Homo sapiens: one gene and its partner. The protein of the gene in region 1 purifies or fractionates together with the protein of each later gene. This does not show direct contact. Each region holds a gene or a part of one and is shown in the gene's direction. Other genes may lie near its edges.

The links. The genes of interacting proteins can lie anywhere in the genome.
Region 2: the proteins of MLNR (region 1) and RAB3B purify together in Homo sapiens (affinity purification with mass spectrometry; one large-scale study listed by BioGRID and IntAct). This does not show direct contact.

Annotation. Positions count from the first base shown.
Region 1 is NC_000013.11:49,218,757-49,222,508, forward strand, and holds MLNR (motilin receptor), read left to right. Parts: upstream 1-1,581; coding exon 1,582-2,482; intron 2,483-3,283; coding exon 3,284-3,621; downstream 3,622-3,752. UniProt on the Homo sapiens protein: Receptor for motilin.
Region 2 is NC_000001.11:51,931,551-51,935,202, reverse strand, and holds part of RAB3B (ras-related protein Rab-3B), read left to right. Parts: intron 1-1,760; coding exon 1,761-1,885; intron 1,886-3,652. UniProt on the Homo sapiens protein: The small GTPases Rab are key regulators of intracellular membrane trafficking, from the formation of transport vesicles to their fusion with membranes.

The DNA of each region.
Region 1 (3,752 bases):
CGACAGGTGTCCCTCCTCCAAGCTCACAGTCTGCATGTGAGAGAGAACTGCAGGAGAAGCTTGCCCTAGGCAAAGCCAGGTGTCAGGTCCAGAATCGAGACTCCAGAGAAGAGGTTGAGGATTTAAGCCACTGAGGGGGTGGAGCTGGGCAGTGAGTAGGACGTCAGGCTTGCAAGCTCTGGGATTAGGCCGACCAGAGCCCATATCCCAGTCCCGCCTCTTACTGCCTGCTTGATCTCAAGCAAGACCGCTTTGTTCATGGGCGAAAGGAGCGCCCCGGGCCATGAGGATTAAATGGAGAGCACAGGGCCAGATCCATCTAAATTCTCAGTAAGTGTTAGCTATTGTTATTAAGACCACACCGAACAGACTGAACATCCGTTTTAGCCCCTTTCCCCAATTTTCGTTCTTTCCGGTGTTGACAAATCCTCTAGTTTTTTAAGTTTATAAAACATGTTGTACATAAGAATGACATATCACATGTGAAAGTACTCTAGTGTCCACGTAAATATTTGTCTTGTTCTTTATAATAAGTAAACATGCTCACGGATCCTTGAAATTATCTGGTCACTGCCGGGCGCGGTGGCTCACGCCTGTAATCCCAGCACTTTGGGAGGTCGAGGCGGGTGGACCACCTGGGGTCAGGAGTTCGAGACCAGGCTGGCCAACATGGCGAAACCCTGACTACACAAAAAACACAAAATTTAGCCGGGGCTTGGGCGCTCCTGTGCTCCCAGCTACTCAGGAGGCTGAGGTGGGAGGACTGCTTGAGCCTGGGAGGTCGAGGCTGCAGTGAGCTGTGATCGCGCCACTTAAACTCCAGCCTGGACGACAGTGAGACCCTGTCTCAAGAAGAAAAAAAGAAAGAAAGAAAGAAAAAAAGAAAAAAAAGAAATTATTTGGTCAATTATATGGTCAGCTCCCTCCACCACTCGCGAATTTACAGAAGAGGAGAACTGGGCTGGGCGAGACCAGGACTAGCCCAAGATTACACAAGTTACTCGGTTGTAGAGCCAGGATTAGACAGGAGAGGCTCTAGATTCTGGTCTAGACTCCCCTCCTATTATTTAGCATTATGGCTTCCTGAGGATTACCATGAGCCCTCCTCCACCGTCAAGCGGCAGCTACCAGCCACCAGACCAGATCCCTTCGAAGGTGCCCGGAGTACCAGACTGACAAAAGCGCCCGTACAGTGCTCAGTCCTGTAACCAAAGCTGTCTAGGGTGCAGACATCGCTCACCGGACCGGGTAGGGCTCGTGCGCTAAGGGCGCCGGGTATTCCAGTTAGTGGAGAGGGAAGCGCCCTGGAACTGCATGGGCCCGGGAGAGGGCGCGGGAGCGGAGCAGGGCCGGGCCGGGGCGGGCCGCGGCCGTGGGCGGAGACTGCGCGCAGCTAGCTCGGGAGCGCCTCGGAGCCCACCCCGCAGAGCCGCTTCTCGCGCCCCGCAGCGCAGCGCAGCGCTCCGCCGTCTGACCTGCCGCGCCCGCAGCGTGCGGGCTGGGAAAGGAGGCGCTCACCGAGAGGGACCACGCGCCAGGCTCCCAGCCCGACCCGGGACGCGGCGGCCGCGCGGAGCACCCATGGGCAGCCCCTGGAACGGCAGCGACGGCCCCGAGGGGGCGCGGGAGCCGCCGTGGCCCGCGCTGCCGCCTTGCGACGAGCGCCGCTGCTCGCCCTTTCCCCTGGGGGCGCTGGTGCCGGTGACCGCTGTGTGCCTGTGCCTGTTCGTCGTCGGGGTGAGCGGCAACGTGGTGACCGTGATGCTGATCGGGCGCTACCGGGACATGCGGACCACCACCAACTTGTACCTGGGCAGCATGGCCGTGTCCGACCTACTCATCCTGCTCGGGCTGCCGTTCGACCTGTACCGCCTCTGGCGCTCGCGGCCCTGGGTGTTCGGGCCGCTGCTCTGCCGCCTGTCCCTCTACGTGGGCGAGGGCTGCACCTACGCCACGCTGCTGCACATGACCGCGCTCAGCGTCGAGCGCTACCTGGCCATCTGCCGCCCGCTCCGCGCCCGCGTCTTGGTCACCCGGCGCCGCGTCCGCGCGCTCATCGCTGTGCTCTGGGCCGTGGCGCTGCTCTCTGCCGGTCCCTTCTTGTTCCTGGTGGGCGTCGAGCAGGACCCCGGCATCTCCGTAGTCCCGGGCCTCAATGGCACCGCGCGGATCGCCTCCTCGCCTCTCGCCTCGTCGCCGCCTCTCTGGCTCTCGCGGGCGCCACCGCCGTCCCCGCCGTCGGGGCCCGAGACCGCGGAGGCCGCGGCGCTGTTCAGCCGCGAATGCCGGCCGAGCCCCGCGCAGCTGGGCGCGCTGCGTGTCATGCTGTGGGTCACCACCGCCTACTTCTTCCTGCCCTTTCTGTGCCTCAGCATCCTCTACGGGCTCATCGGGCGGGAGCTGTGGAGCAGCCGGCGGCCGCTGCGAGGCCCGGCCGCCTCGGGGCGGGAGAGAGGCCACCGGCAGACCGTCCGCGTCCTGCGTAAGTGGAGCCGCCGTGGTTCCAAAGACGCCTGCCTGCAGTCCGCCCCGCCGGGGACCGCGCAAACGCTGGGTCCCCTTCCCCTGCTCGCCCAGCTCTGGGCGCCGCTTCCAGCTCCCTTTCCTATTTCGATTCCAGCCTCCACCCGCCGGTACTTCCCATCCCCCGAGAAAACCATGTCCTGTCCCCCAGGAGCTCTGGGGGACCCCAGGGCGCTTTGAGGGTGGGATCCCCGGATCCGATTCAGTAACCAGCAGTGCTTTTCCAGAGCCTCTGAGACCAGAAAGGAGAGTTGGTAATTCTTAATCCAACCACCTGTTAGATGCCACAGATGAGGAGTCCTCACAGTGCTCTTGAGAAGACGAGGGAGATTTCATTAAGCTAAAATTTTTTATTTAATGTTAAGTGATGCTGAAGGCTAAAGTAAACCTTGCTCGTATCAAAAAGTAAAGATTGTGCAGACCTGTTGTAGAATTCTTTTCAACAGAGAACAGAAAACTTGTCTCCGAAGTGGGTTTGTGGAAGGAAGCCTGCCAAGGCGGCTTGTTCAGAGAAATTGCTCCTTCTGGTTTATGTCCAGCCTTGATAACACATATGGGAGCCTACTATGCAGTTTTAAAGCAAGTATCCATGCAGCCTGCAGCCTGGTCATTTTTTCTGGGGTGAGGATCTGCCTAGGTAGAAGTTTTCTCTAATTTATTTTGCTGTTACTTGTTATTGCAGATGGTTCCTTGTCGGGGTGGGGGGTTTATTTGCTTCCCAATGCTTTTGTTAATCCCGGTGCTGTGTCTTATGTTGCAGTGGTGGTGGTTCTGGCATTTATAATTTGCTGGTTGCCCTTCCACGTTGGCAGAATCATTTACATAAACACGGAAGATTCGCGGATGATGTACTTCTCTCAGTACTTTAACATCGTCGCTCTGCAACTTTTCTATCTGAGCGCATCTATCAACCCAATCCTCTACAACCTCATTTCAAAGAAGTACAGAGCGGCGGCCTTTAAACTGCTGCTCGCAAGGAAGTCCAGGCCGAGAGGCTTCCACAGAAGCAGGGACACTGCGGGGGAAGTTGCAGGGGACACTGGAGGAGACACGGTGGGCTACACCGAGACAAGCGCTAACGTGAAGACGATGGGATAACCAGCACGGCCAAGCCAGGCTCCTCTTGCAGTTCTAAGACTTTGGGGAAAACAGGTGTGTAGAGAAATAAAGACTGCAAATGAGGAACAGATCCTGTTAAGAAGAATGGAAAGAGGGTTGCAGTTGTGCCA
Region 2 (3,652 bases), on another chromosome or scaffold:
GTTAGGTTGTCAGTGTCAGGGTAGAGTCAGATTCAAGATCTGCTTCAGGACTGACCATTCACTGGCTCGTTCATTTATCAGCATTCACTGACACCTTCTTCGCTGTGTGTTCTGTGCTGGGTATTGGCATCCCAAAGATGAATAGGCCGGTCCTTGCCCTCAGGGAGAGAGACAAATTCAGCCAAGTGTAATAGGTGTCATGGTGAACGTGCAGGAGACCAAAAGAGGAAGTAATCATTTCTACCTGATGGGGTCTTTGGGGAATGTTAGGCCCATCTCCACAAAAAGATGTCTTCATAATATAAGAGAGTCCTTTTTTATTTCCTCTTAAAATTTTGTTTTTAATTAAAGAAGTAATACATGCTCACTTTTAAAAATGTGAAAAGTACAGAAATTTGAAAAGGTTTTTTTTTTTTTTTTTTTTTTTGAGATGGAGTCTCGCTCTGTCACCCAGGCTGGAGTGTAGTGATGCGATCTTGGCTCACTGCAAGCTCCACCTCCCGGGTTCACGCCATTCTCCTGCCTCAGCTTCCTGAGTAGCTGGGACTACAGACGCCTGCCACCATGCCCAGCTAATTTTTTTTTTTTAATTTTTAGTGGAGACGGGGTTTCACCATGTTAGCTAGGATGGTCTCGATCTCCTGACCTCGTGGTCCGCCCACCTCGGCCTCACAAAGTGCTGGGATTACAGGCGTGGGCCAGCGCACCCGGCCAAAAAGTATTTTTTAAAAGTCTTATAATCATCTTATATGAAGGTAACCACTGCTGACATTTTGGTTCCTGCAAATAATCATAATCCGAGGCTTCAGGGAAGGTTTATGAATCACATAGGAGGAGGTGGAGGCTAAGTGGATCTAGGAGAAGCTTGAAGAGGCTCCCCTCAAGGTGTTGTGGGATCAGCACTGGGCCCTGGAGGATGAGTTAGTTGTGGGGAAGGACTTCCCAGTGTAGGCAAAAGCACAAGCCATGGAAGAGCTTTTGGGGAATGAGTAAAAAGGTTAGGGAGGCAGGAGAATGGGTAATGAGGCTGGAGAGACACAGCATGAGTGATCTTGAACTGAGGAATCTGGACTTGATCACATAGCTAGCTGGGGGCCAGAGAAGGCTTTTAAGAAAAGATTCATTGTGATCAAATACCTGTTTTAGAAAGACCTCTCTGCCCAGTGAGGAGAGGGATGGCCAGATATGGTAGAGGTGGACTTCAAAAAGATGGATGAGGTTTGCAGCTAGGGCTTAGGAGTCAGCATCTGTGACAGCCAGCAGGGACAGGTATCTGTCTGTCCTCAGCTGAATTAATTGGCAATAACTTGGATGTTGCTAGTCCTGTGGAAGAGAAACCATTTCTTCACACTTCACAGTTTTCTTTTTGTCATAGGAGGGTATGTGTCTTGGTCAGTTTGGGCTGCTATAACAAGAATACTATAGACTTGGTAGCTTAAATAACGGACATTTCTTTCTCACAGTTCTGGAGCTAGGAAGTCCAAGATCAAGGTGCCAGCAGCTCCAGTATCTGGAGACAGCCAGCTTCTTGTTGTATCCTCCCATGGCCAAGAGAGAAAGAGGGCTCTAGCCTCTTTCTCTTCTTATATGGACACATTTATTAGGACTCTAGCCTCATTGACATAATTACATCCCGAAGACTCCACCTCCAAATACCATTACATTGGGGATTAGGCTTCAACATGTAAATTTGGAGGTGGGGACACAGACATTCAGTCTATAGGAATATGATTAACATATCTCTTTCTATCTCATTTTAGGGCTACTCAGATCAAGACCTACTCCTGGGACAATGCACAAGTTATTCTGGTGGGGAACAAGTGTGACATGGAGGAAGAGAGGGTTGTTCCCACTGAGAAGGGCCAGCTCCTTGCAGAGCAGCTTGGTATGTACATGACACATGTATGTGCATGTGTGCATTTGTACACATGCTCATGAGAGTGGGGTAAACAGGGTACGAGTGTGTTTGTATTTATGACATTAGTGTTGTGATTGTGAATTATGTACCTATGTGATCTGTGTGTATTGTTTTATATTTGTATGAGGTACATATGGGCTTTGTGCTGTGAGTTTTAGATAATTCATCATTTTTGATATGTATATATTTTGTTATATTGAATGTGTAAATAAATTTTAAATTTATAAACTCTTTTTTTTTACCAGTTCCTTCCACAAAGGACTTGAGATATCTTATAAAAATGGTCACAATACAACAATAAAAATAAATAAGTAAGTGAGAAAATTGGAGCAAAGGGAAAGCAAGGGTGAGGGAAAAATAAGAGGAAGCTAGGGTAAGTATTAAGTTCTTGGACACCTGCAAGAGTTGGGGCCAAAATGTTGTCTTTGAGCTTCCTAGCAACCTTTGCCAAGAGGGAAACATAATCAGCTACATGGTTTAGAGTGTCCTAGTATAAAAACAAACCCATTATTCCAGAGAAGCACTACTCTTCATCATCAACTGTAGAGCAGACTCTGTATGCTGAATGTGACCATGTCTTGAATATCAAACATCCTTCCAGCACTGAGTATTTATATGCTGTTCTTACAGTTTATCTCAATGCAAATTCATGCTTCTCACCAAAACACAATTCACAACAAAAGTAATAGTATGAAGGAACAAAACTATGTGGTTTGAGTATGTAGCTCATCGGTGTCCTGACTTTTTCCAAGCTTAACATATTTTGATCCTTGTGCTCCTTTGAGGCCTAGGTGCCCAGGCATGTCTCAGTGGCCCCAAAGCAGAACTCTACCTACCTTTGCTTAAAAGAAGAGCTTTTATTTTATGTATTGGGGTCCAGGGTAAGGTTGCCTTACAAAAAGAGTTCCATGCCTGTAGGTTTGAAAGTTTGAAATCTTCCTCTAGAATAGATGTACTGCTTAGCTTTTAGACAGTCTCCCTAAGTATATCTCACATCCTTAGTGTTGTAAGTATTGAGGAGTGGAGAGTTTAAAGTCTCTGACAGTTTCTGAAGAACAGATATTTGGGCTTATAGGTGGGTAATCTGTATAAAATACAAGTGTGAATTGTGTGTTTTATATATTTGTATTATGAGTATGTGGGTGTGTGTGTGTTGTATACTTTTTTCTCCCCAAGGTGTCCTGTAAACTGTAGCAAACTATAAGTGCTTAATAAACAGGGAGGTTGGGTCATCTTGGGCCTTGCTGTCTCTACACTATCACAGAGGTTCTCAGAGTCCAGAAAGTGCCTCCATGTGGTCCATTGACCAATAAGCAAGTGATGAAGCCCACACCTGGTGAACTTTAGACGGTCCCTTTAGGCTTTCAACCTGTAGTCTCCCTGGAGGCTCCCAGCACTCTCCCTGGACTGACTATATTTCATCTGCTTGGAATGCTCTCTTCTACTCCCCATCTTCTACCCTCATCCAGCTGGTGAGACCCCACTCAGCTTTCAAAACAGCTTACACTTCACATCTTCTATGAAACCTTTCCCAGCCCCCTGCCAGAGCTCTTTATTTGTTCTCTCAATGCACCCCATACGTAAAAGAGTCACAGTACCCATCACAGTTGGATGCACTCATTTACTTGTCTGTCTCCCGAAAGTTCCCTGCAGACAGGAAATGAATCTTGTTTGTCTTTGTGCCTACTGTGCCTAGCATATGGCCGGGCACGGAGGATGCAAAAATATGTTTTG